7 linked regions of the Homo sapiens genome follow. The protein of the gene in region 1 interacts with the protein of each later gene in a pairwise test. Each region holds a gene or a part of one and is shown in the gene's direction. Other genes may lie near its edges.

Region 1 (4,046 bases):
AAAGTAAACTTTAGAAGTCATTCTAACATAATTATTAAAGTAATTAAATGACTTATTAAAGTAATTAAAGTAATTAAAATGACTTGTTTATTAATTAAAATGACTTGTTTAAGTTCTGCTATGTCCAAAATTATAACATTAGGTGGACAGTAAGGAAAAGCTTCTATTTTCCTCAAATCTTATTAAAAAGGTACGTTGTTGGTTTGCATTTGGGAGCCTTTTACTTTGTACAGCATCATGAATGCTCTGCTTGCTTCTTGAAACTTTTATACCACTTTGTAGATGTTGTGGTTTCAGTACTTTCATTTTATACCTTCAAGTTAGTGATGGATTTTTATAATGAAAATATTACTGGGGCAAAGGGCCTGAAAATTTAAAGCCTGTCTTTGTCAATCTAATAGCTAAGATATTTAATTTGCTTCTTTCTGATTGCTTGTGAGGATGAGTATTTGTAAGCTAGTGTCCTTTTCCCCATTTCTTTTCTTTTCTTTTCTTTTTTTATTTTTATTTTTTATTTTTGAGATGGAGTCTTGCTCTGTTGCCCAGGCTAGAGTGCAGTGGTGTGATCTTGGCTCACTGCAACCTCTGCCTCCTGGTTCAAGTGATTCTCCTGACTCAGCCTCCCTAGTAGCTGGGACTACAGGCACGTGCCACCGTGTCTGGCTAATTTTTGTATTTTTGGTAGAGACGGGGTTTCACCATATTGGCCAGGCTGGTCTCGAACTCCTGACCTTGTGATCTGCCCACCTTGGCCTCCCAAAGTGCTAGGATTACCTGCATGAGCCACTGCACCTGGTCCTTTTTTTTTTTTTTTTTTGAGGCAGAGTATCACTCTGTTGCCCAGGCCAGAGTGCAGTGGTGCCATGTTGGCTCACTGCAACCTCTGCCTCCCGCGTTCAACTGATTCTTGTGCCTCGGCCTCTCGAGTAGCTGGGATTACAGGTGTGCACCACCATGCCCAGCTAATTTTTTGTATTTTTAGTAGAGATGGGGTTTTTCCATGTTGGCCAGGCTGGTCTCAAACTCCTGGCCTCAGGTGATCTGCCCGCCTCAGCCTCCCAAAAAGCTGGGATTGCAAGTGTGAGTCAAGATGCCCGGCCTGCAGCCCGACTTTTGATGAATCTCTACTTTCATTACTAAGTGTTATGGCCCAATTTAATTATTTCCTTGGTAAACTATTTATTGAGTCCCTATTATGTGAATTTAACACTATCCAATATGTTCCGAGGATATAGTAAGAAAATAAAACAAGCAAATAATCCCCTTGTGGGCTAATGTTCAATAATTACAGGTTGTATGTCTATAAGTTTATTAATTTAATTCTTTTTTCAAATTTTCATGTAATTTTAACTTATGACAACTTTGTATTTATTTATTTATTTATTTATTTATTTATTTATTTATTTATTTATTTGAGACAGAGTCTTGCTCTGTCGCCCAGGCTGGAGTGCAGTGGCAGGATCTTGGCTCACTGCAAGCTCCACCTCCTGGGTTCACGCCATTCTCCTACCTCAGCCTCCTGAGTAGCTGGGACTACAGGCACCCGCCACTGCACCCGGCTAATTTTTTGTATTTTTAGTAGAGACGGGGTTTCACCATGGTCTCGATCTCCTGACGTTGTGATCCGCCCACCTCGGCCTCCCAAAGTGCTGGGATTACAGGCGTGAGCCACCGCGCCCGGCCGACAACATTGCGTTTTAATTTCTGGTGTGGTTATTTCCCTCTCTAATGTGTCAGAAATTTTTTACTTGTATCATTCGTCTTTCCCTTCCCACTTTTTTTTTTTTTTTTTCTTGAGACGGAGTTTCGCTCTGTCGCCAGGCTGGAGTGCAGTGGCGCGATCTCGGCTCACTGCAACCTCCACCTCCCAGATTCAAGTGATTCTCCTGTCTCAGCCCCCCGAGTAGCTAGCTGGGATTACAGGCACGTACCACCACGCCCAGCTAATTTTTGTATTTTTAGTAAAGACGGGGTTTCACCATGTTGGCCTGGATGGTCTTGATCTCTTGACCTCATGATCCACCGCCTCGGCCTCCCAAAGTGCCACTTTTTAAAAATAGTGCAGTAGTATAGCGTCTTTGTTAGGAAAGCACTGGCTTCAGAGGGCCTGGACTTCATCTTCTCACTCACTCACCGTGTGAACAAGGCACTTCGTCTTTCTGGGACCTAACTACTCCTTCAGTAAAATGTTGATAATTTAAAAATCATAGGATTTCTGTTGTGACGAAATGAGATGCCTATAAAGTACATGCTCCTGATTAGACGCTATCGTTTCTAGTTGTTAATTAAACCTGTTTGGGAAACAATGATATTTTTACTATATTCAGCCTTCTAGGAGCATACGATATCTTCAATTAGTCAAGACTCTGTAACTTTTTGAAGGTTTCATCATATAGATCTCTTGCATTTATAATCAAGTTAATTTTTATATTTTATATTTTTATTGTGACATCTTTTTAAATCTCATTATGGATAAATGGGAAGCTTTTTTTTGTAATTAACTGGTCATTGATGTTACTTAATTGTTGTCTTCAGTGTTGATCCTTTTAGATTTTCTAGGTAGGCAGTTGAAGCATCTGTTGATAGTGATGGCTTTTGTCTGGTCCTGTCCAATAGCTATACCTCTTTTGTTTCATATGTCACCATACTCTTTAGAATAGAACAGTATTTGTACTTGTTGCCAAAGCCCTTGTTTTGATCCATTATTCACTGGGAAATGTTTTTGGTGCTTTACTAGTGAATATACTGTTGGTTAGGATTCTTGGATAGAATTCTGGTATTCTTTGTTTATCCTTTTTCAAAAATTACATTAAGAAAATAAAATACATCAAGAATTGATACTGAATGTTATCAAATTCCTTTTTTTGTATTAATAGAGGTGAATGCCTAGTTTTGTTTTACTGATGTGACAGATCAGATTACTAGGTTTCCTGTTATTAAAGCATATTTGCATTTCTCGGGTAATTTCTACCTGATTATGACTGTTTTTTTTAATACACCTTTGAGTCTGAGTTTCCTGTACTTTTAATTTTTACATGTATGTTCATAAGAGAAAGGTCTATCAGAAAGGTGTTAACTGAGAAACATTTTACCTTTATATGTGCTCTAGAATAGTTTTTTTGTTTTGTTTTTGGTATGTAAATCATCTGATACATGAAGTTTTGAAAGAATTCACTCGTGAAATTACCTGCATCCAGACCCTGTTTTTTTTAGCCTATTGCTTTTTCTTCTTATTCAAAATTAAAATATGATAATTGCACGATTTCAGAAAAGTGGCTATTTTCAGATATAACATAATTTTTCACTTATTTTTCCAATATCCTTTATGTTAGCTATAAGTCTTATTTTAGATTATATTCTTCCTAAAAATATACATGTATATATATAAAATGGTGGAGTGCAGTGGCTAATACATGTAATCCCAGCATTTTGGGAGGCTGGGGTAGAAGGATCACTTAAGCCCAGGAGTTGGAGAACAGCCTAGGCTACACAGTGAGACTCAGTCTGCACAAAAAATAGAAAAAATTAGTCAAGCATGGCGACTCATGCCTGTGTTCCCAGCTACTCAGGAGGCTGTGGTAGGAGGATCACATGAGCCCAAGAGGTCAAGGCTACAATGATCTGTGATTGCACCACTGCACTCCAGCCTGGGTGACAAAGTGAGACCCTGTCTCAAAAGAAAAAATAAATATAAAATTAGATTTGCTGGATTCCCTTATTTTATTTTATTTTTTGACACAAAGTCTTGCTCTGTGGCCCAGGCTGCAGTGCAGTGACACGATCCTGACCCACTGCAACCTCTGCTTCCCAGGTTCAAGTGATTCTCCTGCCTCAGCCTCCCAAGTAGCTGGGATTACAGGTGTGCACCACCACACCCGGCTAATTTTTGTGTTTTAGTAGAGATGGTGTTTTGCCATGTTGGCCAGGCTGGTCTTGAGCTCCTGACCTCAAGTGATCCACCCGCCTCAGCCTCCCAAAGTGCTGGGATTACAGGCATGAGCCACTGTACCTGGCCAGATTCCATTTTTTTTTTAAGTTATATCTGT
Region 2 (4,776 bases), on another chromosome or scaffold:
TCTGAAACATGTGCTGTGTCCACTCAGGGTTAAATGGATTAAGGGCGGTGCAAGATGTGCTTTGTTAAACAGATGCTTGAAGGCAGCATGCTCGTTAAGAGTCATCACCACTCCCTAATCTTAAGTACCCAGGGACACAAACACTGCGGAAGGCCACAGGGTCCTCTGCCTAGGAAAACCAGAGACCTTTGTTCACTTGTTTATCTGCTGACCTTCCCTCCACTATTGTCCTATGACCCTGCCAAATCCCCCTCTGCGAGAAACACCCAAGAATGATCAATAAAATAAATAAATAAATAAATAAATAAATAAATAAATCAGAGCATGACACTCTCCTGTTTAAACCCATTAAATGGATTCCCATAGCTATTCAAATAAAGCCCAAACTTCCTACTGTATAGTGCCCATCTTTATCACACCCCTCCCAGGCTCCTCCACAACCTCCCTGACCTTCCCTTGTTCCCTTTTCAAGACAAGCTCTTTCCTGACTCAAAAATATCTTGTTTTCCTCTTCCTAGAACTCTCTGCCCTCAATATTTCATGTAGCAGGCTCCTTCTCATCTTTCATGTATGAGTTCAAAACCCCATTCCTTACAGAGGCATTTCCTGACTACCATTTCTAATCCTTAATGACCTACCCCAATCTCTATCATGGTACTGTTTTATTATTGTCCACATAACGTTTATCACCATCTGAAATCATGATTTTTGTTTTGCATACTTGTTTATTGTATATTGGAGCCATAAAGACATTTACTTCATTTGAATCTTTCAAGTAAAAAAAAAGTATTTAATAAATATTTGTAAAATGAATGGACTAAATGAACATCCGGATTCTATAAAATTAGTAAGTAAAAAGTAAAAAAAGAAAGTATTCTGAACAAAGATGCCAGGCTTTGTAGTTGGCGCTGGCAATGGAACCGTGTCTTTCAGTAGTTCCCACTCTGGTGAAGACAATAGACAATTGTGATGCCGTATGGCAAATGTTAACTAGGAGGCAAATAGAAGGTCCTGTGGGATCACAAAAGAAAGGATCCCTTAAAGAGTCGTTAAAATCTGAAGGATGAGTGAGTGAAGGGGAAATGAGGGCTGAAGGGGTGGAAGGAATGTGGTAAACTCCTAGGTAGAAGGAACAGCAGGTGCGAAACTGTGCGGGAAGAGATGGGAATCAGAGAAATTTTAAGCAGTTCCCTGTTCCTGGAGCACTTTCCCAGGGTGATTGTAGGGTTTGATGACATAATAGCATGCACACTACTGTGAATGGTAACTCGCCATGTAAGTTAAGATATTGTTATGCAGACCTGTACCTACCAGTCACTTACTATATCTTTTGATAGTCAAAGAAAAAGGAAGGATAATTTCGAAGAAAGACTTCGTGGGACGGCTTCTGTGACTTACATGCTGGGTCCTGGGACCTCACCCCATCCTCTACACTAGTTTTGTACAGTCCATGTTCGTGGCCTGAGAAGGCGTGGTGTTGCCTTGACCACGAATCTCATTGGCCTTTCAAAGGGGAAACTGTTGTAGGATTGGCTGTGGAGATAGCAAGAGGCCTGCCCCCTGTCGCTGATTGGGTGAGAGCGGCCAACCCCCTGCCTCCGTCTCTCGGCGGCCCCACGGGGGCCTGTTGGTTGGCAACCGATTTGCTTCCTCCGGTGCGTGGCTGCGGGGTTGCACCTGTGAAGCGAAGACAACCTGCTAGGACCCTGATAGGCGTACACCTCTCACTCCCACTCACGCGCCGACGACATGGGCTTGTCTCCGTTACTCATCCAAGTTTGTCTTGAGACTGGGCTGTGAGCCGGCACTGCAGTGAAACGCCGCAGATGAGGAAGTGCCCAAGTCTTCCTTCGGGAAGTTCTCGTTTAGAGGAGTCAGGAGAAAAAGTCATTGTTATATCCCAACTTTAGAAGCCGCTTATCTTGGTACCGTTCTGAGGTTCTAGAAAGCAAGTAACTTATATCAGTTTACTAAGTGTGGGAAAGTGACCCATAACTTCAAACATCTGCCTCAGAGTAAACCTGAGGCATTTGGGGACAAGTGTCAGACCCTCCGCTGCCTATCATGCACGGCAGAGCTTACCTCTTGCTGCACAGAGACTTCTGTGATCTCAAGGAGAACAATTATAAGGTAAGTACTGGGCACGTGGAGAGATGTGTTTCATTGTGCAATAATTTTTAAGAGGCAGTTTAACCCATTTTATTCTATAAGTAGTAATTTAGTTAAACCTGATTTGCCACTACAGTATTGTTATTTAATAAATCCATTTCACTGAAGTAATGTGTTTCATATTAATAACAATTATTATTACTTCAAAATAATAATGCTTAACAATATTGAACATATTATGCAGAGTAATTTATGTGGATCTAGGCACTGAATATCAGGGTCTGTCATGTAGTTAGTGACTAGTAGGTGCAGGCTTATGCTCATTAATTATAATACTATACAATAAGTAGTATTTCATTTTACTTACCAAAAACCTAAGCCTCAGAAATATTCTGTAAAGATTTTGCCCCATGATTCCATTACAGGGTTTTTGGACTTCAAAGCCCTAGTTCTTAATTCCTGTGTTCCACTGCTTACTGTCTAGTGTACTTTTACCAGCATGACACATAAATGCCTTCCCTTTATAGTTTTAACACAAAAGAAGCAATGTCCTTGGGCTTAAACGCCACCAATGAGGTTATCAATGTCCATGGCTGCCACAGGCTGATTTACGGAAAATGAAAAATGGAAGAGGGGGCGAAGAGGGAGTGCTTAAGAGAAAGAACAGAAAGAAAGCTGTCCATGAAAGGTATAGAGTGCTTCCCACAGTTGCTTCAGGTGTAGTTCAGTGGCATTGTTCATTTTTTACCTCTGCTATAAAAGTACTGCATTCACTGGAGATGTTAGGAACAATTATGGAGTCCAACAGCGAACATTCCTGGGGCATGGACCTAACATTTGATATTGTTTCTGCTCATCCTGAGCTCTGTAGTTCTCTGTTGAAAGAGAATCCAATGAAGGAATATGTAAATATAGATAATAGAGAGACAGGGCTCACCCAGACAAGCACTAACATACTTAATAACTATGTGGATGCTCAGAAGTGTTTTTATGTGTTTGTAAGTGTGTTACTTAACGTAATTCATAAGGTTTTCTATGAAATACATTCTTGTCCCTCCATTGGAACAACTCCTCAAGTATAGGAAAACTTTGCTTTTATATACAAGTGTAATTTTGGATTTTTTCTTAATGAAAATGTTCCCACTTCATGCCTTTCATATAGCATTCATATAGCTCTAAAATGTTTTGAAGAAACATGCACTTTCCAACTATTTCTTTCTTTTAAAATTTGAATATTAAATTGGTTATTGATTTACACAAACAGTATATAAGCCACACATTCTAATCTTGACTCTCTAGTCCCACTTGTGATTTCCACACTTATGATTTATTTTTAATTACTATTGCATATGTTTTCTGGGATCTATATTAACTTCCGTGAAATAAGACATGTAACACTTCCCCAGAGCAGCAAATAAATAAACTTATCAAGGAAAGAAAATTTAGAGTTTTTAGAATTCAGTGTGACCTGGTATATGATTTTCAAAACTTCAATAAATACTTAATAAGTTTTTTCTGATTTAATTTTGTTTTTAACTTCAAGGGTATCACTGCTAAGCCTGTAAGTGAAGATATGATGGAATGGGAAGTTGAAATTGAAGGTCTACAGAATTCAGTTTGGCAGGGTTTGTATTTTCAAAACCAATCTATTTTTTAAAAAAGTCTTTATACCATTATTAGCCCATCCTCTTTTTATGTAGGATAAGGTCGCATTATATAAATTTCCTGAAATTCTTCTTCATATGCATAAGTTTGCATTATACCAGTTGTCTAAAATTCTAAAAATATTCCCATTTTTTTTATTTATGACTTTTTTGCCATGTGTCAACATAGATGGAAATTTGGGGTATTTTTCTTTATGCCAAATCTTAATTTTATTACATTTTTAAGAAGCAGACACAATAGAGCATATCAATTGAGAGAATATCGTCTGCCTTCCGTGAGATCAGGGAATAACTATCAAAATTCCTATTGGCTTCAAAACCCCACAGTTACTTCTCATTTTTTCCTTTATGATTTTCCCCCAAATTTTCATAAATCAAAAAATCTCAAGAACACTAAGCCACTATAAACTTTAATGCTCATGTTTTCTTTCAATTATGGATTAATAAGATAGATTCCTTGAGTGAGGTAGGGGAGACAAACACATCAGCTGATAATTACAATAAAATATACATTATTATGGATTTTGAACAGAATGCTAAAGAGGAAGAGGATTAGTTAATTATGCCTGAGGGAGTCAGGAATGTCTTCCCAAGGAGATCACATTTGAGTTGAGTCCTGAAGAATCTGCCAGGTTCAGAAGAAGGATAAGGAAATTCGGGCAGAGTAAACAGCACAGCAAAGACTTGTAGACAAGAAAGGGTGTAGCAGATTTTGGGAACATGAGTTCAGTCAATACGAGATACAACAGAGGGGGTGGATGTTAGGGCGACAAAGGTAGTAGATGGAAAGGACTAGTGGGAAAGAGACTGAAAACGTATGATTATAATAGATTGTGAAGTGTCTGTTATACTATCCAGAGGAGTCGGTGCACTCTATGAATCAATTTACTTAAAAATAAAACTGTGGAAAGACTAAACCATAGGGAGAAACTCCAGTGTTAATCAGGTTACAGTTAATCAATAAACATGACACTTTAGTAAAAATGTTTATTTCTATATTATA
Region 3 (4,046 bases), on another chromosome or scaffold:
TTAGTTTTTAAAATTTTACTTTTAACTAAATGCTTATAGAATTACTCTTTACCCTTGATGCAACTGTGTTTTTTAGAAATACCTAAAAGGTGGTGTTTTCGGTTTTCTCTGGAATCAGGGAAATGTAAAGATCTACTTTGAATTTGTATATGTATATAAACCCGGGAATGTTTTCGTTTCTTTTTTTGCCTTTTAATGCTGCTGCTTTTGCATTTTCCTGGTGTCTTCATTAGGAGCTCCATCATCTGAATATTGAACATCTAATGTGCATCTCACATGGTTACAGCCTCTTACTGATCATTTCCATTGCTTCGCCTTTTCTATTTAGCTGTAGGGAAAGCTTCAAAAGCTCCCATTCTCATATGATAAATTCAATTTTCTGCATTTTTCAAATCTGTGTTATTGCATCTGAAACCATTTTAAATTCCTTACTTTTAATACTTCAGGATCTTCTTCCATCTCAGTCTTATTTCCTTACAAAACAACAAAGGCTCTGCTTTTCTTGATGATTGTGAGCTCCGAAGTCATTTTGTATAAAAGGTACTTCAATATTCTATGGTAAATACTCTTCAAAGGTATGTTATTCCTCTACTTCTTGAATGTCTTTCTGAATTTCCTTCGTTACTCTGCAGCTTTTATTGGTAGGTCCTGTTCTCCTTCTGTTTTTGTTTATTTACATATCCTTCACCGAGGGCAGCCTTGTTTACATTGGCGTTGCATGTTACCATATGACCCGGCATCCCTGGGGGGACGGTGAGGATGCTCTGGGGTGTTGACATGCCCAGCAGGGGAGATCCCTTGCTCCAAGGTGCCTTCTGTGAGTTGGGTGCAGGGGCCACATGGGCACTGGTTTCCTGTAAGTGATTTTAGGTTTGGACTCATTCCAGGAGCAGTGTGGCTATGTCAAACCTCCTGCCCCCATCACTGTCTCTGTTAGGGAAGAACAGCATCAGCAAGACGCCTTGATGTTTTAGGGCTTTCTGTGCAGCGCGGCGCCCCCTATGCTTGGGTCTCTGATTCAGCTGATGGCAAAGCTGGTTGCCTCCCAGCATTGGGAATATTGTCAGGTGCGGGAGCACCCACATGGCCCATGGCCTTTGCTCTTGCAGATATCAGGGTAGATTTGTCAGCTGCCTAGATATCAGATATCTTACAGCTATCTACTCAGCGGACAACTATTTTCTTTCTATGACAATACCATGCTGAGGATTGCCAGATTTGGGAAATAAAACACAAGATGTCTAGCTACATTTGAATTTCAGAAAAACACCATTTAAAAATATTTATTGTTAATTATAAGCATGCCCTATGGAATATTTCTGTTTATTGGAAATCAAAACATAATTAGGTGTTTGTGTTTTATCTGGCTGCCCTAATCATTCTGTTTTCTATGTGAGGTATTTGAGTCCCTTGTGAGTCCCAGTAATTCTTGCAGTCTATGGCATGCAGATTGTACCTAATTTTCAGCATGGATGTAGATTTTTTTTTTTTTTGCCTATTACCGTATTCGATTAGTTATTGCTTTTGAGTCCACATAGGGGAAAACTGAGAGTCTTGTGCTCAAATTGCCTTCCTCCCATATTTTTTAAAAAAGTATTATTCAGGGAAAAATGATCCTTTCAAAAATGTTAAAATTAATACAAAATCTCTCCCAGACCACTGAGTTGCTTCAAGATGCGAACATGTCACTCTCCTTCAAGTAAGAATTACAGCCACGGAACCCAATCAAAAAGTAATTTTTGTCCTTAGCGAATTATTAGCTGAGATTTACTGTGTATAGCTTCTTTGTAATTTAACACTTTGCTAATTTTTATGTTAAATAAAAATCATGTCCTTTAGTGACAGTAACCATTCCTGTAAGGATGAGAGGATAATGAGTTTTACTTCGTTCATTCTGTGCATCGTGGACCATAATTGGCATTATTTTTGTAGTATTAGTTAAAAAAAAAAAAGAAAGGAAGTGACACTAGCTTTAGGTCAAAATGGAGCAATTTTAAGCAATAAACATTTAGGTCAGATACCAGGCAAAATGACTAATAGACCATTTGTGGAATAAAGCTAAGAAGTTACTTCCCTTCAAATGATGTTCACAGTGACCCCGATTGCCTTATTGCTTTCCTGAATAAAATCATAGGACCCGATGTCATTGCCCTTGGAAGGTGTAATTAGCTGCACAGTTAGGTTTCATGTCCTCAAGTAGTCGGGGTCAGATGTTCAACAGGGAAGTTCACGGAGCCTTGGTGTCTGGCATTAACATTTAAGCATCTGTAATTTGGTTGTCTGGCTTTGGCTGTTTCTAGCACGAATGGCAAAAGAGTGCTGAGGCAGCTCAAGGTACTTGTTCTGAGTGGTGCCAAGATGTGTTTTTAACAATAGGGGACACTGTATCAACTGATGTAGGTCTTATAGGAGTCTCATTACATGGAGAGGCCCATCTTCCTTAGTCCCGTATCACCAGGATTACACGGAGCTCTTAATGGGATAAAAGGATCCAGGATTCCGATTACAGTGATGGAAGCCAAGAGGACAGTGAATAACATCCTAGTGTAAAAACAGAATCTGCTCTTTGTGACATAAAAAGCATAATCCACATGTTGATTTATTCATTCACGTGTTTATCAAATATTTATTGAGTACCTGACATTTACCAGGCACTCTCTTAAAGACTGTGAATACAGCAGAGAAAAAAGCCTTGCGTGTCATTTCTGCTCCCTGGCATATCACACACTGGAGTGCATAGAGAATCACAGCAAAGCATAACGTGTTTTGATGCAGGAAGCTGGGGATGCTACAGAAAAACCCAGATGGAGACCATAACCCAGAATCATACAGTCAAGGAAAGGATCCCAGCAAGGTGACTTTGATAATGCAGCCAGAGAGGTCACAGAACTGTGGCTAGGCAAATGGGGAGAGGGTGCCCAGAGAGGGGCTGAAATATTCTTTGTCTCTTCTTTGTTTTTACTATAACTCACATGTGAAGATACAAGTTTAGAGATAATATCAATCAGGAGTTATTTCTATAAAGTTAAAACATGTAATCTTTTTAAGGCATGGAGTCCCTTTTTATATCTATGATATTTTGATTTTTGAAAACAATCCATATTTATGACGTTGAACCCTAGGAAATTGTCATTTGGGTGGATGCAGACTGCTCACTTATAAGCAGTCTCAAATGGTTCAGTCCAAGACAAGCCTTAGTTGTTTATATGGAAGCTCAGCCTGCTCTGAGTTTGGTCATGCCGATGATTGGAGAGATTTTTTCATCCAGGGCTTTCTGTAAACTCGGGTTGAATACATGCGTTGAACTTCTTGTCTAGAAGTTAAACTGGATGCAGCCTGACACCCTGTGTTATCACAGCTGGGCTGAGGCTACAGTGCTGCAGTCAGCCCCCTCATGCTACCAATGGGTCCATGGGAAACAACGAGGGTCAGTGACCTGCTCATCGTCTCACAAAGCCGGGAGCAGGACCCCTGCCTCCGAGCTCTTGGCTCTCTCAGCTGCTGGCGGATGACTGCCAAGAAGGGTCCTGACTCGGGAAGGCATCAGGCTTCCAGATGTGTGTTTGCGTGGGCCTTTGAGAAAGGTGGAGCCATGAGTGTCCGAGTAATCAAAGATAATTACATGGTGACTGACGAGAAGGGCTTCAGCATAACTTGTGGAGCTTTGCCTAGAAAGTCAGTGTTCCCAGCCAATAGTTTACATTTCTAAAACTCCTTAAATTGGTTCTTTGGATTATGCAATTGCTCTGCCTGCATTTTTCTTACAGAATGTAAGGCAACTTGTGAAAATAACATTTTGGATTTTTCTCCCCCTGAGGGAGAGATACGTTCAGTGCGGAAAAATGAACAATGGATTTTGTTCGTTGGTGACGGCGTAGTGTCCACAGGATGTGGCTGGCATGGAAGCGAGGTGCTGCCCTTCCCGTGCTTCTTAGGTTCAGGGTCCAGTGTTTCATAGATGACTTGGAGCATTGCTTTGTACGCCCGGCCCTGACACATTGGTGTCGTGGTCACCTCATCTCATCTATTTCTAGAGGGCCCCTCCC
Region 4 (4,046 bases), on another chromosome or scaffold:
CTACTATGCTTTTTGAAGATGAGCTTGCCACTAATGTGGGGGAATGTTGGGGAGGGGCTTGAGTGATTTCCATTTGTTCGATTATCAGTTTATTGCCATCAGCCTGTCCTGGATGGGGCATGGCAGTGGGGGTGGAGGGAAGAGAACAGATGTGAGAGGTGATTGGGGGTACATTTACAGGTGCCATGCTGCTCAGGAGACCAGGCCCCATGTGTCCACGTGGGAGTTGAGGGTGAGTCTTGGGCTTCCGTCCAGGAGTACTAGGGGAAGAGCAGGACTGGGGAGGCTGCCTGAGGCTGGTTTCCAAAACACTGACTTTGAGTTGCCTTGGAATCACCCAAGTGGATTTGCAGATTTGGATCTCAGGAAAATATTCTAGACTGCAAACTTTTAAAAAGATTTGGCCTCAGGCAGCTGCATGGGGAGGAGTGTCAGCACTGCAGGCGTGGACGGAGGCCTGAGAGCTGCCAGGAGAGCTGGCAGGGAAGAGGAGGCGGCCCCCTGGGATGGAGACAGCTCTGGGGAGTGTGGTGGCCATGATGTTCCATCTGTCAGCTACATGGTTTAGCTCAGAAGGGGAAAAGTGTAACCAGGTAGAGGCTGAAGGAGGGCCAGTAGGCAGGCAAAATGGTCTCATCTTACAGAGAAAATAGTGACTTATAGAGATAATTATTTAGAAGTCTGAGCCCTCCTACTCTTGTTCTAATAACTAACAAGTTATTGTCAAGAATTCTTTTAAAACGAAAATATTTAATTCATGGTATTCAGGTTTCCTGTGCACGGAGCCTCTGCGCTGCGTTACTGTATTTATTCATCGGCCTTTGTCCTTGGGCGTTTCATCCTTCAAGGGAAGCCCTAAGTGATCCATGGTGTGGTGTGTTCCTCACAGGTTCATCCCGAGTTACTCCCTGAGTCTTCAGGCGACGATGGCCAAGGGCTTGTGACTTCTGCAAGCGACGTGACTGGAAACCACGCAGCACTTCACAGGGATCCTAGTGTGTTCTCTGCTGGTGATTCCCCAGGGGAGGCTCCTTCTGCGCTGTTGCCAGGGCCACCCCCTGGTCAGCCTGAAGCCACTCAGCTGACAGGGCCAAAACGGGCTGGCCAGGCAGCTCTGTCAGAACGAAGCCCTGTGGCTGATCGGAAGCAGCCTGTTCCTCCAGGACGTGCTGCGCGTTCAAGCCAGTCTCCAAAAAAGCCGTTCAATAGTATTATTGAGCACCTGTCAGTGGTATTCCCATGTTACAACAGGTATGAACAGAAAATGTCTGTGACTGTGTTTAATACTTTATCGAACTGAGGTTTCCTGATTAGATAAAATCATGGCTAGTTAGGTGTTAACATGAAAAGGGTTGCATAATTGTTTTGCTCAGAAAGACAGTTGCTACATTTCTTTCTTTTTGTAAATATAGAGATAAGTATTTTCAAATAAATTGGTGGGTTTTTTCTTTCTTTTTTTTTTTTTTTTTGAGACAGAGTCTCACTCTGTTGCCTAGGCTGGAGTGCTGTGGCACAGTCTCGGCTCCCTGCAACCTCTCCCTCCCGAGTTCAAGCGATTCTCCTGCCTCAGCCTCCTGAGAAGCTGGGATTATAGGCATGCATGACTAAGCCTGGCTAATTTTTGTATTTTTAGTACAGGTGGGGTTTCACCATGTTGGCCAGGCTGGTCTCGAACTTCTGACCTCAAGTGATTCACCCGCCTTGGCCTCCCAAAGTGCTGGGGTTACAGGCATGAGACGCCACACCCAGCCTCAAATAAATTTTTTAATGTGCATATGTAAATTGAAAACATTGAGCACTGGGTAATATTCATCAGAACCCATGACAATTTGCTAAGATTTTGATGAGACCAATAGCACTGTCTAAAACTAGTGTTATAGTATCAATAAATGAACGCAAAACAATAATTTTGCATCATTTGGGGGGACAAAATTATATATAGCAAAGAAGGCAGCAGCAACTTAAACCTTGTTATATAAGACCTCTGATTTGTTAGAGTGTGAGGTTGAAGACTGGATGGAATTCCATAGTGAATGGGGCATGTGGACATGTTAACAAGGGGTCCTTGTGAATGTGGGAAAAAGCTGCCCTTACCTGAGTGAGCAAGAGCTGTAAATAGAGTTGGGATGATGGCAGGCTCTTCAGTAGCGTTTCTGCCTCCACCTCTGGTTTCCGCTGTTCAGGTTGTTACGAGGGGGACAGAGTTGCCTCTTGTCTCAGCTGTGAAAGATGATGAGGTAGAGGCGGTGTCTCTGAAGTGCAGCTCGGATCAAAGGACTCTATGCTCAGGAATGACCTTTGGCATGTGCCCTATTATTTCAGTTTCTGAGACAGTGTTAATTACAGGCTTCAAAATTGAAATTTGTAAACAATGGGGCAGTTAAAATATGATTAGCCAGCAGGCATGGTGGCTCACGCCAGGCCGAGGCAGGTGGATCACCTGAGGTCAGGAGTTCGGGACCAGCCTGACCAACATGGTGAAACCCCATCTCTTCTTAAAAAAAAATGGCAAAACTCGCTTGAACCTGAGAGGCAGAGGTTGCAGTGAGCAGGGATCGCGCCACTGCCCTCCAGCCTGGGCAACAGAGTGAGACACTGTCTCAAAAAAAAAAAAAAAGTTATGCTTTTTAGATAGTTATTGTTGTTATCAGTGGTCTTCAGATTAATTTTATGTGCATTTGTCTTTGTTTCTTTGGGTTGGGCTGTTGGATTAATATTGGCATGTAATATTTCTTAGCAGTAGAGAACTTTCTGTTGTCATTCATCACTCACTCTCCCTTTCAGCACTGAGCTTGCTGGTTTTATTAAAAAAGTGCGAAGCAAAAACAAGAACTCACTCTCAGGATTGAGTATTGATGAAATTGTCCAAAGAGTGACAGAACACATTCTAGATGAACAGAAAAAGAAAAAGGTATTTTATCTAGATGTTCCAGTTTATCCTTATTTATTTATAAAATATGAGAATTGTTAAAAAAAAAAAAAAGCTTCAAACCAAAACCTAGAGAGCAATGTACTAAAGACAGAAGATGGTCAAGTTGTTGGATAACTGGTTGCTTCCCTCTTGTCCCCTCCCCGCCACCCCTGTTATTTTCGCAGCCAAACCCAGGAAAGGACAAGAGGACTTATGAGCCCAGCTCTGCCACCCCCGTGACCAGGTCCTCCCAGGGCTCACCCTCGGTGGTTGTTGCACCATCACCCAAAACCAAGGGGCAGAAAGCAGAAGATGTCCCTGTGAGGATTGTATGTATAACTGTATAGTTTTGTTTTTTAATGAAAAACAAGAAGCAAACAAAATTTTTAATCCATGATTTAGCCCCATTCATTTCTAGACCTAATTTATTTGATCCCAACATTAGAAACTGAATTTCAATGTACTTGAATGTGTCCAGTTAGAGCAATCAGTGAATGGCCGAGGTCATGGTGTCTGCTGTGATACGTTTGGGCCCAGCATGGAGAGAAGCCCCTGCACATGAGTGACAAGGGCTCTGACCATCGTGGGGGATCTGAGCCTTCTCTCTCTTGCCCTTGTTTTGCTGCAGATGGTCAAGTACATGAACTTTGTACATCCAGTGTGGTATTTTGAACAGTTGGGGAAATCATTTTTGAATAATTTTCTTCTGTGTAACCATGGCTTTGGAATTACACAGATGTGTCAATGTGTCGTGTGGCCACACCCACCCCAAGATAGACCGTGATTGCCTGGAGAAGAGGGTTCTGTTTTTGCTTCATGATGGATGTTTGTAGTAACGAAGATATAAAAGCTGACTTACTGAAACTTCACCAGATTGTATGAGAAAGAAAAATATGTGTTCAAACTGGGACCTAATTTGATAACCATAGTTTGTTAAAATTAAAAGTATTAATTTTCAAATTACAAAGTATTACATACAATAGAAAATACAAATAAAAAGGGCATTTAAAAACCCGCCCTGTAATCAGTATTACCACTTTGGTATATATTTTTCTAAACTCTTGAATGCATGGATATGTGAATTAGTCAAAACTGAATACGCTAGTCACACTTTGTATGTTCTCTGAGGGGCTGA
Region 5 (4,582 bases), on another chromosome or scaffold:
ATATAAATCAAACCATGTCATTATGCATATTTACATGACGATATGAGCATGTCATATATTGTGTAATCAATTACTACATTGTGCCATATAGTAGCATCCATATCTATATATATCATGATGTGTTGTAATTTATAAACTCATGCAATGATAGCCTCCCATGCACATAACAGCACACACATAGACACAGTGGCAAACAAACATAGATGCAATGACACAGAAACATACATACAGATACACCCAATGTGTTTTTGTTACGTTTTATTATGTGACTCATAGACACATAATAGCACACACATATATACACACAATGGCCCCTTCACATATACAGAAATAGATAATGTCTATTCTATAGATGCATACTATACACACGCATGCGCATAATGGCATGCATATATACTCTGACCTAAACAGCAACACATCATGCAGTGGCGTGCGTGTTGACCTACACACTGCTTTAGGGAAGTGAAGATGTCCACTCCTCCCCATGCACCCCCTACCTCCAGTTCCATTGGCTCTTGCCTGGGTGGAGCCCACAGTCAGGGGCTCTAGGGTTCAGTATCACCGCTGCTATTCTGTGGGGGTGCCACACGAGGGCCCCCGACCTTGGCTGAAACTGGCTTGCCTAATGAGTCCCGGGTTCAGAGTGGAGAGGGGCTGCCTCTCGGGGCTTCTCCCAACACCCCTGGCTCTGGGGACTCTGTCTAGACCCCTGCCACTGCATATAGACTGACTCCTGGCTGAGGGGATTCTCACGTCCTTGTCCCCCAAATTATTTAGCAACAAGATCTAAGGCTAGACAGAAGATGAACTTCCAGGCAATTCGGGACAAAGCCAACCCAACAGGCCATGTGGGCTTCCCTGGTGGCCTGGGACAGCCAGGTTGCCCCCCAAGTGCAATCTGCCAGGAGGAAGCAGAAGGAATTCTCCGTCTATTTCTACCTGTCTCTTTGCTTGTCTTCCCGGTTTCTTTCTCTTGGTTTCTGTCTCTCTCTTTGTTTCATCTCAAGTCCCATCTTTTCTAGTTCTGCCCTTCTCTGTGGCTGGATCTCTGTCATACCCTCCCCCGTTCTGTCTCTATCAGTCTCACCCGATGTAGGGAGGACCATCTGCACCCCACTCGCCTCTGTACTCCGGAAGGTGTGAGAATGTGTGAAGATGAGGGTGGGAGGCCACATGTGGGAGCCCTGGGCTGACATGCCGTGAGAAACCTGCTCTTCCTTCTGTCCCCGACCCTGTCAGCCGGTTCAGCCCACCAGTCCAGCGCCATCACCATGGAAACCAGCAGCCGACTTCCTATTGGTGGGTGGGAGGGGAGGAGGAGGAGGAGGAGGGGAGGGCTGGCTCTTCCCGGCTCACCCCCCCACCCAATTCTGAGGCTCAGCCCTCCTCGGAGCCCACCATCTCGAGGCTCCTGGACTGTAAGGGACCCCTGCAGTCCCCAGAGCAGAGGCCAGCAGGGGCTGAGACTATGAGGCAAGCAGCCCATCGACCCAGGCCTCCTTAGGACCAGCCCAGCCACCCAGCAAGCGAAAGAGCAGCAGCAGAGAGCAGAGCCGGAGATAAAGGACCACAGCGGACCACTGGGGATCACCCCCAGCAGCTCCTGAAGCCTCTGGCCGGGCTGAGGGGTTGCGACAGACGGCCAGACCCACAGACACTGACAGACACACAACGACACCGATGCACACAGCTGCACGACACTGACACACTCAGATACAACCAGGGACAGCATCACATACTGCCACAGCCCTGCAATACAGACACCCACACACACACACACAAACAACTGGCAACTCTGAAATGGGCAGACAGTGACACACAGCACCACCCCCCTCAACACACAGAAGTGGGGGCACCCATCTTCCCAACACATGAGACAGCATTGACCTGCACGGACAGACCTGGAGACACACACACGCACCCTCACCCAGGCGCAGCTGTCGGTGGCCTCTGCACATCCTCCCTACCCCCACAGGGACACCCTCGCTCCTCCACATACTCGCGCACACACACAGCTACCAGCAAACATAGCTCACATACCCCTGGCTCCAGCTCCAGCAGCCCTGGCGCCTTCTGCAGCCTCCTTTGTGGGTGGGGAAGAGCTCAGCCAACCTTGGATGGAGCGTCGGTGAAGCAAGAGCTCAGAGGGGAGAGGGGCTGGCCTGGCATGACCCTCGCCAGTCCCCCCACCTGGCTGGGTGATGTCCCCCGGCCCGGGTTCTGGGGCCCCTTGGCAGTACCATGGAGCAACTGACAACCCTCCCACGGCCTGGGGACCCTGGAGCCATGGAGCCATGGGCACTGCCCACCTGGCATAGCTGGACTCCAGGTCGAGGGGGTGAACCTAGCAGTGCAGCCCCAAGCATCGCTGATACTCCTCCGGCAGCTCTGCAGCTTCAAGAACTGAGGTCTGAGGAGAGTTCCAAGCCCAAAGGAGACGGGAGCTCCAGGCCCGTGGGGGGAACTGACCCTGAAGGAGCAGAGGCTTGTCTGCCCAGCCTGGGCCAGCAAGCATCCAGCTCTGGACCCGCCTGCCAGAGGCCAGAGGATGAGGAAGTGGAGGCTTTCCTGAAGGTAAGGGATCTGTGGAGGGCTGGGGTCTGCAAGGTGGGGGTCTCTCACCATGTCCTCCAGCCTGGCCAGGAGGTGAGGCGAGGTATGCATCCCCAATGCCCACCTGTCCTCTCTTGGCCTGTCTGTGGGTCCATCTCTGTGGCTATCTGTCCTCTCTTCATCGAGCAGAAATCTGAGGGGCTCCATTTCTTTCGTCATTTGTCTGTCCTTCTGACCCTCTTTGCCTGTCTGTCTAGATCTGGCCCTGCTGCTGCCCCGTCCCTCTCTGTGCCTCCTCCTGACAGTGTGTCTGTCTGTGTCTCTTCTTCCATGAGTCTGTCTGTCCTTAGGGGCTGGGGGATACAGGGGGAGTGTGGAGGTGCACAGAGAATCAGTGCAGAGGAAGTAGATTGAGGGGAGGGGGCTTGGTGCTGGGCTGAGGCAGGGTTGGGGTGGGTGTGAGCAGGCTCCTGTAGAAGAGGGAAGGAACAGGACTTTGGGGGAGGGCAGGGGAGTCTGGAGGGATGGGAGTGGGAGCTCGAGCTCGCATGTCCCTGGAGGAGAAGATGGGTAGGAATGGGAAGGATCAGGGAGGAGCAGGAGGGTGCCAGGTTTGGGGGTGTCTATGTGGACAGGGAGGACTGGACAGTTCCTTCTCCTAGGCCTCCTCTGCTCCTCTCTGAAGGCCTGGGACATAGGGGAAACCGTTTCATCTCCATGTCTCCTTGGACCATGGATGGTGGATGCTTCCACAGGGAAGGCTCTGGCTGGGTGACGTGGGTTTCTGAGGTGCTGTCCTCGGTCCTTTCCCATGCCAGGCCAAGCTGAATATGAGCTTTGGGGACAGGCCCAATCTGGAGCTGCTGAGGGCCCTGGGGGAGCTGCGGCAGCGCTGTGCCATCCTTAAGGAGGAAAACCAGATGCTGGTGAGGCTTGGAGACTGGGGTGCTGCGTTCTGGCTGGAGCCAGGCCCTCTGCCTCAGTGCCCTCCTCACCCCATGAACATCTTTCCAAGTGGGGGCTCAATGGAGGTGACAAAATCCTGAGACCCAGAGAGGGTGAACCCCTGCCTAGAGTTGCCAAGGACCCCACTGTGAGCCTAGGGCTCTAGCCCAAGACTTGGGCTGTTAGGACTGGGTCTGTGGGGTGCTCCCTACATGCCCCAATTCTGCCTGACCCCTTGTCAGAGGAAGAGCAGCTTCCCTGAGACAGAAGAGAAGGTGCGGAGGCTGAAGAGGAAGAACGCCGAGCTGGCGGTCATTGCCAAGCGCCTGGAGGAGAGGGCCCGAAAGCTGCAGGAAACGAACCTGAGGGTGGTGAGGAAAGGAGGCTGCTGGGCGGAGGCTGGGTGACCAAGGAAGAGGGGAGCCAGGGCTGGGCCTGAGGGCTGTCTGAAGCTTGGGAGTCACGGTCTCAGCTCAGCACCTAGGAAAGCAAGAATCTAGGGGCTAAGGTGCAGGAAGGGCAGAGGCTGGCCAGGCAAGGAGGCCAAAGGTTTCTGGAGCTGCAGGGGGCAGAGAAGAGCTGGATGGGGAGGTTCCTGAGCAGGCAGGGAGCAGGATTCTGGATTACCACGTGCTGGTGCTGGCGGCAGCCTTCTGCTGAGCTCATCTCAGGGTATAGAGCTGGAGTGGGGGCAGGGATGAGACCCATCACAGTGGCAGCCCCAAATTAGCAGCATCCTTTGATCCTAAACTCAGATGTAGAGTTAATCCTTTCCAACTGCTGGGATGGGGTAGAGTGAGGCTGCTGGTTTTCTGAGACCCCAGTCAAGGTGGAAGCAGGTGGCTACCCCCCTAGGTTTTCATGCTAACTCCTCCTTTGGGAGGAGATGAGGAGTGGGAGAAGTGCCCCAGCCCTCAGGTGACCATTGGCCTTACCCCTCCTCTGGCTAGGTGAGTGCCCCCTTGCCCCGGCCGGGGACCAGCTTGGAGTTGTGTCGGAAGGCCCTAGCCCGCCAGCGAGCCCGGGACCTCAGTGAGACAGCCAGTGCACTGCTGGCCAAGGACAAGCAGATTGCTGCCTTGCA
Region 6 (4,046 bases), on another chromosome or scaffold:
TTTTGTAAACTTTTTTTTTTTCCATATCCTATGTTTTTCCATTGGGGTGTTGTTTATTTGTAGGAGCTCTTTATATTTGGACACTTTAGTTTTACAAAATAAGCCCATCTCCCAAAGTGTGGCTCTCAACATGGCCTTTCTCACACGGCCTTTCTGTGGCACAGGTGTGTAAGGTGAGCTGCACCGGTAACCACTGAGACTGGATTAGCATTTTCCAATACCCTTGCCTTAGCTGACAAAACTTCAAAGCCCTGGGGTCAAGAACAAGTGCAGAGCTGAGATCCACGTGCCGATGTGTACACGGATCTCAGACGTGATCCAGTTACTTAGACAACAGTGGAGTGTGTGGGTTCCCGTTCAGCTATGGTGAGTGGGGTTGTAGAAGTTGGGAGTGAATTCTCACTTGTCTGCTTCCCCTGGAGTACAGTTCGGTGTCCTCTCATGCTACCTTTTGCCTTTTTTATCCTTTGGTTTTGGTCCGTACAGAAAATTGGAAACCACTGAGAAGTACAAAATGAGAGCAAGAACAAAAACCACCCTGAATTTCACCACCCAGAGCCAGAGTATGGGATGAGCACTGGGGCCAGGCCCTCCTCCTCCTCTCTGCAGATGGATTACAGGATTTGCATGTGTTACACTGTAGTGGTGGCATGTGCTAGCCTATAGCCTGTTCCCCCCCGCCAGGGCAGTGTTGACAACACTGTGTCATTCCCTGTAGCTGAGTTGTTACATTGTTTGCACTGTTCCACTGCTCAAATGCTAGTGTTTCCTTGTACCTCTTCCTGCCTTTAAACTTCGGGAAGTTTGAGCCAGAGCAACTGGGACAGCAGAGGTGTGGACAGTGTGGGTTTACTGGCACCAATGTGTGACAACAGACACGGCGAAGCTTCCCAAGCCTTGGTGTCCAGCGGTTTCCTTGGGGTTGATCACATGCTGTGGGGGTGGCTGACTTTTAGTTCCCAGCCCCTCCAGAGGTGGAGTGGACACCTTGTGGCCCCAGGCCCCTGCCCTAAATCACGTACTTAGGCTGCCTGTGGGGCCCAAGGCCCCTACTCTTGGAGATGAGGCCAAAGGCAAGGTTAATTCTTCACTATGCAGAGGGTGTACCCTGTGCCAAGGCTTTTGATGTCTGGTACCAGACACCATTTGAGGAGTAGCCACTGCCTGCAGAGGGTAGGGGAGGCTGGGTCTGGCCGTGTGTGCCGTAGGCCTGGCTGGTGGTGGGGGTGAGCGGGCAGGGAGCTCACTCGTGTCTTGAAGACGCTGACTCTTTCAAGTCTGGACAGTGCTGCGGCTGTGAAGTTCTGAGGTTGCCAGAAAGATGGAGACGTGGGTGGAATGTCACCTTACTTCAATGTGAGCTTGCTGTCCAGAGGTAGTGTCTCACTTTGAACTTGGGAGAGAGGGGATGTCCAGTCTGCCTGCCCGCTGTGTCCTGGTTCCTAACAGTGGAGCTTCTTCACCCTGATGGAAGCGCGGAGGCCCAGGGCTCCTCCAGGGGTTCTGACTCCTCCAGAGGGACGGGGCCTCTGCTCCTGGCATCGTGCATGGCCCAGAGGAGGGAGGAATCTAGAATTCTCTCCACTCAATGTGGTTGCCTGTGGCAGTTGGCTTCTTGGAGGAGGTCATTTGAGGTTGAGAGCTCCATGAGTTGGGACTCGTGGTGGATGCAGATACCGCTGCAGGCTGGGCGGGTGGGGGGCCTCTTCATCCTTGGTTGTAGGTGCTTTGCCAAGAGGGAGATGTCTTGCTGTGTTGACTCGTCTTTTGAAGGTTGTGTGCTGGTGTGATTCTCTTTATGGAAGCACCTGGTAAAACTCTGGGAGGCTGGCATGGTGGCTCATGCCTGTAATCCCAGCATTTTGAGGGGCCAAGGTGAGAGGATCCCTTGAGGCCAGCAGTTCGAGGCCAGTCTGGCCTCAACATAGTGAGATCTCGTATCTACAAAGAAAAAAAAAAGCACAAGTCCAAGAGTGGGCAGTGCATCTAGTTTAAGTACCCCTAATCTGAAATTCACAATCCTCCAAAATCCGAAATTTTGTGAGCATAGGGAAGATGCTCAAAGGAAATGCTCACTGGAATGTTTCGGATTTTGGATTTTTAGGTTAGGGATGCTGAGCCAGTAAGTATTTGCAAATATTCCAAAACCTGAACAAATCTGAAGTGCAAAGCACTTTTCGTCCCGAGCATTTGGGATGAGGGATGGGCAGCCTGCAGCATGTGAGCAAAGAGCAGTGTTTGGCTCTTGGCAGTGCCCCTTTACCTGTGCGTTCACTTTTTTTTTTTTTTTTTTTTGGTGGAGCGGAGTGTCTCTTTGTCACCCAGGCTGGAGTGCAGTGGCACGGTCTTGGCTCACTGCAACCTCCACCTCCTGGGTTCAAGCGATTCTCCTGCCTCAGCCTCCTGAGTAGCTGGGATTATAGGAATGAGCCACCACGCCTGACTAATTTTTATATTTTTAGTAGAGATGGGGTTTTGCCATGTTGGCCAGGCTGGTCTTGAACTCCTGACCTCAGGTGATCTGCCCACCTTGGCTTCCCAAAGCTCTAGGATTAGAGGCGTGAGCCACTGCGCCCGGCCTGCTCTTGGTTTTGAAAGTGATGTCAGCAGTATAACTTCGTGTAGGAAATGTTTGCCTTAGGTGGTGTGGAAGATGGACCATGTGATTTGATGCAGTCCAGGCAGCAGATTACAAAATCCCGCCTCGATGGTGTGGCTTGGGGTTTCTCCTGACCTTGGTGTAGGGCACGCCTTGCTGCCTCCCCTTTCTCTAGTTGAACTGCAGGACAGTGGGTACAGTTGTGAAGTTACTGCCACTTTCAACATCTCTTGGCAAATTCCTCAATAATCTTTTTAAAATTCCTTTAGAATTGTGGGTTTGTGAACTTTTCAGCATCGGGTGGAGTGAAATTGTTACCCTTTCTCTCAGTGAGAAATTGGAGGGGATTATTGTGGCAGGAGGAGTAGGTTTGGGGGATGCGAGTGGGGCAGGGAGAGGGGCATAGGGTGAGTTTTATCAGGAGCTGCTTTCAAGGAGAGGACTAGGGTGAGTGGAACCATGCTGAGCTGGCAGGCAGCACCCTGTGGCTGGTCCGCAAACATGGGGGCTGCTCCCCACACCTGGAGGCTTTTTATGCCTCTTAGATCTCAGACTCTTAGATCTGATGCACCCGCTCCCCAGAAAACCGCCCACGCTTAGCACATCCACCTCCATTCAGTTTTAGAGGTTCCATGTACTCCTAGCCTCTCTGCATTTCACTGAGGCCCTGCACCGCTGCAGGATGCCCCTGAGCTGGGCGAGACCCTAGGCTCTGTCCCATGGTTGCTTTGTTACTGTGCTGCTGCTGGGAAGCTTCCTGTTGAAGGGTTTTGAGGCGTAGCCAAGATGGAAGTTGTGGGCAGCAACGATTCTTTCCCAGGTAGCAGTTTAGAACCGCAAGGGACGGAGGGCCTGCCACCTGGGCAGTCAGGAGACTCTTGGCCCGAGGGACTGAGGCCAGGTTTTCCAAGCCGAAGATGAGGACACAGGGTGACGAGTGATACATTGATTTTGACATGTGTGTTTATGAGGGAGAAATCCTCCCAGTGGAGTCTGTGTTTCCGAAAACAACTGTGAGAGCCACGGCAGCACGTGGGAAAGGCAGAGCCAGAGAACCATCTGATTCGCTCTGCCCAGGGGGTGGAGAGAGAGCACCTGGCTGCTGGAGTGTGGGTGTGGATGGTGCCTGGTGTCCTCAGTGCCCTGTTGGGGCTGCCCAGGCGGCTCTCTGGAGGGGGGCTTGGGGCAGTGCCAACTCAGTCTGGGAGTTCAGGGCTCAGCCACTCGACTCCTGGCAGAGAACGGAGGGTGTGGAGATGGGTGGTTACTTGCTAGGTTCTGCTGGTCTCTGGGCCCTGAACCCAGTGACTGTGGAGGGAGTGCTGAGACCCGAGACCCGAGACCCTGCACAGGCTGGGGGTTGGAGGGCGGGCGGGGTTGTGCCTCAGCTAGGGTGACAGGCCGGCTTGCCATTGGTCCAGTGACCTGCCCCATTCTGTGACCTCCC
Region 7 (4,009 bases), on another chromosome or scaffold:
GGATGGGGTTTTTCTTCCTTTCAGTTCTCACTGGGTGTTTTTTTTCTTCCTTTATTACAGGTGCTTTTGGACTTGACAGAAGCTATATGGGAAAATCCTTAAAAGGTATCATGTAAATTTGAAGAAGAAATCAGAAGCACAATTAAATTTTTTTTAACCTCAAAGACTGAAATAGTTTTTAAACAAGCTAGAATGGCAAGAGAAAATGTAGAATTTTTAGTGTGGTCAGTTACTACAGCAAACACACAAACATGTGTGACTGACATCAAGAAAGTGACCAGAGGTGGTCCTTGGTAGAGCTTAAGTCTTTGGGGAACAAAAGATTCAGTTTGCTGAGGAAACACTCATATTTCATTTAAAAGAAATATGGCTTATGGGGAGACGGAAACATATAAAGGGAAATAGCCGGGACAATAAGAAAAGATCCACATGGTTACATGTTGACCAAGTTCTGCTGTTCAGGATGGGTGTGCATGATTAGATGCCTAGTACAGAGCTTTTACTAGGAGTCCTCCCAGCACAAATGCCTTCTTGTCATGATAATAGAGCCCTCTTGGTGCTCCTGGGGCCATCAACAGCTGGTTTCTTGATTGAACTTCTGTAAATTTTCTATTAATAAAACAAAACGTAATTGATTATATTCTAATGTGATCATAAAAATGAAATCAGTTAATGATATTGATGTCAGTACTCATCTTGGAGAGGAGCTAAAACTACTTTAGGGATGGGTCATTTTATAGCAGATTCTCTCCAAAACAAGTGGAAAAGGTACAGTATTATTTTCAGTGTGTAGAATTATGGAAACCTAGCTATAAAGAAAAACAGTAAAATATCACCAAGAAATGATGTTGCCAGTGACACAGCATTAGCTTTCTCTTCTCATTTCTCTTCACAGACCTGGGAAAGAATTCTGAATATAATTCAAGTAACTGCTCCCTAAGCAGTTCTGAGAACCCATATGCCACTATTAAAGACCCACCTGTACTTATCCCGAAAAGCTCAGAGTGTGGTTATGTGGAGATGAAATCGCCGGCACGAAGAGATTCCCCATATGCAGAGATCAATAACTCAACTTCAGCCAACAGGAATGTCTATGAAGTTGGTGAGTTCCCTTAACCATAGAAAGAACCGAGTGCTTAAGTTTTTAAAAACAATTTTAAAGTCTTTACGAATATAATAGTTGCAGGTCATAGAAATCTTATTGAAAATAATGGTCCGTATTTTATTTTATTTTATTTTATTTTATGTATTTTTTGAGATGGGGTCTCTCTGTCACCCAGGTGGTGTGCAGTGGCACAGTCTTGGCTCACTGCAACCTCTACCTCCCGGGCTCAAGCCATCCTCCCACTTCAGCCTCCCAAGTAGCTGGGACCACAGGCACGCACTACCACGCCCAGCTAATTTTTTGTATTTTGGGTAGAGACGGGGTTTTGTCACCATATTTTATTAATAGATGCGACCTGTGTTTTTAGCGATCATATTAATTGGTGCCAAAGGAATTTTCCAGGGAAAATATTATTTAGAAAAATTTAAGGTAAAGTTTCTTTATTTTTCACCTAATCATCCATCTTTTGTTTTGTAACCATAGTGAATATTTTGGCACACATGTGGATAGCATATGTATCATATTAGCTAATATATCTACTTAGCCGAAACAAATGGTTCAAGTGGATTAAACAGGTGATTCCATTTCCTGGTTCATTATATTAATATAATGCATTTAGCAAGATTGAAACATTTTACTTTTAAACTTGTCCAAAAGAGCAGTAATATTCTCTGATGTGAATGTGATGCAAATTAATATGAATTCAATTTAAAATTGGAGTTATTTTGATTGTCTTTTGCAGATACCACTTGGGAAATGATAAAACATTCCACCACTACTCTTGGCTAAACAATAGGGCTATATATTTTCATTTCTCTCTCTCTCTCTGTCTCTATTTCTATGTCTCTCTGAGTATTTATGATTTTAACTTTAAAATATTCTCTACTACTTGTAAATGAAGTGCCTACTTTACTACTAGTAATTTATTTTATGCCAGATACATCCCTGGGAAAAAATATACAAAATAATTTATTTTTAAAGTATTAAGACAGCTTTTTAAAATGCAAGTCAAAGTGAACTAAATTTATTTTTGGAAAGTCAGTAACAATTCTCCTTTAAACTGTCCCACAAACCTGCCACAGTAGGATGGGAACTCAAATGAGAGCCTGAGTCTTGAGTCCTAAAGTTCTGAACATGTTGAGTGTTTTCATGAACTGAATTAACGTTTGAGAATGTCAGTCTTCTCACCTGTGGAATAAGGGGCTTGGCCTACCTTATCCCCAAGGTGTTTTTCAGACCATGATTTATTTCCAGGATTCTGTATATTCCCTTAATATCTTCATCCCGATTATGTGGTCCTCCTTTTGTTCTGAACACCATTTGTGTTTGCCAGTTGATCCAACTACACAGAGTTGCCACCTGTATGTGATGATTTTTAAAATCATGTTTTTAAAACCAGCATTTCCTTATATTTTTTTAAAAGTCCCTTTGGTGTGTTTGACATTTGCAAGAAATGCCATATTCTTTTTAAAAACATTTCCTTTGCTGATAAATTAATATGTCCTTGGTTATCACAGAACCTACAGTGAGTGTTGTCCAAGGAGTATTCAGCAATAATGGGCGTCTCTCCCAGGATCCATATGACCTCCCAAAGAACAGTCACATCCCTTGTCATTATGACCTGCTGCCAGTCCGAGACAGTTCATCCTCCCCTAAGCAAGAGGACAGTGGTGGTAGCAGCAGCAACAGCAGCAGCAGCAGTGAATGACACCAAAGGACCGCTTGGTAGCCACTGGAACCCTTTCCAGAACTGCTGTTTGGTTCTTCTCCATCCTCAATTTTGCCACTTTCATGTGAATGTTAGTCAATTCGGTGGGCAATTTTTGGACATGAACCAGAAAGCTGAAAGCTGAGGCTGACACGGACTGTAGGTGCTTTTTGTTCAGGTGGATTCGAAGGAGTTAGAGATGTGATTTCCCATTGCTGTTAGTTTTAGAACTATACCCGTGAAGCATGACTTATTGTAAGATGTTGGCTGAAAGCATGAACTTGCAGAACTCCCTCGGAGACGCAGGTTGCAGTGGACATTGGGATTGTTGCTTGAAAAATTAAAATTTGAATATTTTCTCTCTCATTTGCATCATACAGCTCTACCTAGGATTGTACAGTTTACCATAAAATTTACTTCATGAAAGTGGGAATCACTGAACATGTAGAAGACAAGGAACATATTGTTAACTCCTGATTCTTAACTTTATTCAACTGGACTCAGAATTGTAGGGATAATATGAATGCAGGAGGAAACATTCTGTCAGGCGGTATGACTGGACAGACTTTGAATATACTCTAAAAGTGGACAGAAAATTTACGAAAATCTTAGATTTTGTTTAGAATGAGAAAATATACAATTAGAATTATTTTAGAAATAGTAGGAAGTATTGCAGAAGTCAATACACAAATGTGCCAGGCAGAGGTGGTTTTCTCTGTTTGACTCTCAACCAACTTCAGATCTATGACATTATTCTGATCACTGGCTCCATCATACATATTCACCACTTGAGATTCATAACATATCAATAGTTATTTCATAAATATAGAAATGAAATAATTTTATTTTTGACAGACTGGATGGAATGAGTGTGTAATGATTGATAAAGGTTGTAAATTTTAAATGCAAGATGACGCTTACGTTCTGTAAACCATTAGTAATACATGCTGTAATATAGAATTAGTGGAACATTTTGATTAATCTTTCCCTAGAAGTGACTGAAATATTTTTGTGCATATTTGAGAAAGGGAACTTTCCTTTTATTAATTGTCAATTTAGAGAAACTATGCTTAAGCTGGTCTTTTGCATTGCTAATGTGACATGTACCCAACTTTTCATTAATTTGTATTTCCATTTTTAAATTGCATATTCTATGTTTTGTAGTGTTTGGATTGTTAATGAAAAAATATTATATG

The links.
Region 2: the proteins of CADPS2 (region 1) and UBE2U interact in a two-hybrid assay, tested with the Homo sapiens proteins (one large-scale study listed by BioGRID and IntAct).
Region 3: the proteins of CADPS2 (region 1) and TMEM132D interact in a two-hybrid assay, tested with the Homo sapiens proteins (one large-scale study listed by BioGRID).
Region 4: the proteins of CADPS2 (region 1) and TTC3 interact in a two-hybrid assay, tested with the Homo sapiens proteins (one large-scale study listed by BioGRID and IntAct).
Region 5: the proteins of CADPS2 (region 1) and TSPOAP1 interact in a two-hybrid assay, tested with the Homo sapiens proteins (one large-scale study listed by BioGRID).
Region 6: the proteins of CADPS2 (region 1) and WDR4 interact in a two-hybrid assay, tested with the Homo sapiens proteins (one large-scale study listed by BioGRID and IntAct).
Region 7: the proteins of CADPS2 (region 1) and MEGF10 interact in a two-hybrid assay, tested with the Homo sapiens proteins (one large-scale study listed by IntAct).

The regions. Positions count from the first base shown.
Region 1 is NC_000007.14:122,876,008-122,880,053, reverse strand, and holds part of CADPS2 (calcium-dependent secretion activator 2), read left to right. Parts: intron 1-4,046. UniProt on the Homo sapiens protein: Calcium-binding protein involved in exocytosis of vesicles filled with neurotransmitters and neuropeptides. Probably acts upstream of fusion in the biogenesis or maintenance of mature secretory vesicles.
Region 2 is NC_000001.11:64,201,987-64,206,762, forward strand, and holds the start of UBE2U (ubiquitin-conjugating enzyme E2 U), read left to right. Parts: upstream 1-1,636; 5' UTR 1,637-2,064; coding exon 2,065-2,130; intron 2,131-2,554; exon of another isoform or gene 2,555-2,797; intron 2,798-3,652; coding exon 3,653-3,734; intron 3,735-4,776. UniProt on the Homo sapiens protein: Catalyzes the covalent attachment of ubiquitin to other proteins.
Region 3 is NC_000012.12:129,701,372-129,705,417, reverse strand, and holds part of TMEM132D (transmembrane protein 132D precursor), read left to right. Parts: intron 1-4,046. UniProt on the Homo sapiens protein: Regulate neuronals morphology via inhibition of the WAVE regulatory complex (WCR), a complex that controls F-actin cytoskeletal dynamics.
Region 4 is NC_000021.9:37,194,786-37,198,831, forward strand, and holds part of TTC3 (E3 ubiquitin-protein ligase TTC3), read left to right. Parts: intron 1-889; coding exon 890-1,251; intron 1,252-2,784; coding exon 2,785-2,911; intron 2,912-3,096; coding exon 3,097-3,240; intron 3,241-4,046. UniProt on the Homo sapiens protein: E3 ubiquitin-protein ligase which catalyzes the formation of 'Lys-48'-polyubiquitin chains. Mediates the ubiquitination and subsequent degradation of phosphorylated Akt (AKT1, AKT2 and AKT3) in the nucleus.
Region 5 is NC_000017.11:58,325,580-58,330,161, reverse strand, and holds the start of TSPOAP1 (peripheral-type benzodiazepine receptor-associated protein 1), read left to right. Parts: upstream 1-1,366; 5' UTR 1,367-2,241; coding exon 2,242-2,574; intron 2,575-3,371; coding exon 3,372-3,479; intron 3,480-3,740; coding exon 3,741-3,869; intron 3,870-4,433; exon of another isoform or gene 4,434-4,448; coding exon 4,449-4,582. UniProt on the Homo sapiens protein: Required for synaptic transmission regulation. It probably controls the recruitement of voltage-gated calcium channels to the presynaptic membrane, and modulates neurotransmitter release.
Region 6 is NC_000021.9:42,865,643-42,869,688, reverse strand, and holds part of WDR4 (tRNA (guanine-N(7)-)-methyltransferase non-catalytic subunit WDR4), read left to right. Parts: intron 1-4,046. UniProt on the Homo sapiens protein: Non-catalytic component of the METTL1-WDR4 methyltransferase complex required for the formation of N(7)-methylguanine in a subset of RNA species, such as tRNAs, mRNAs and microRNAs (miRNAs).
Region 7 is NC_000005.10:127,454,506-127,458,514, forward strand, and holds part of MEGF10 (multiple epidermal growth factor-like domains protein 10 isoform a precursor), read left to right. Parts: intron 1-60; coding exon 61-105; intron 106-895; coding exon 896-1,102; intron 1,103-2,622; coding exon 2,623-2,813; 3' UTR 2,814-4,009. UniProt on the Homo sapiens protein: Membrane receptor involved in phagocytosis by macrophages and astrocytes of apoptotic cells. Receptor for C1q, an eat-me signal, that binds phosphatidylserine expressed on the surface of apoptotic cells. Cooperates with ABCA1 within the process of engulfment.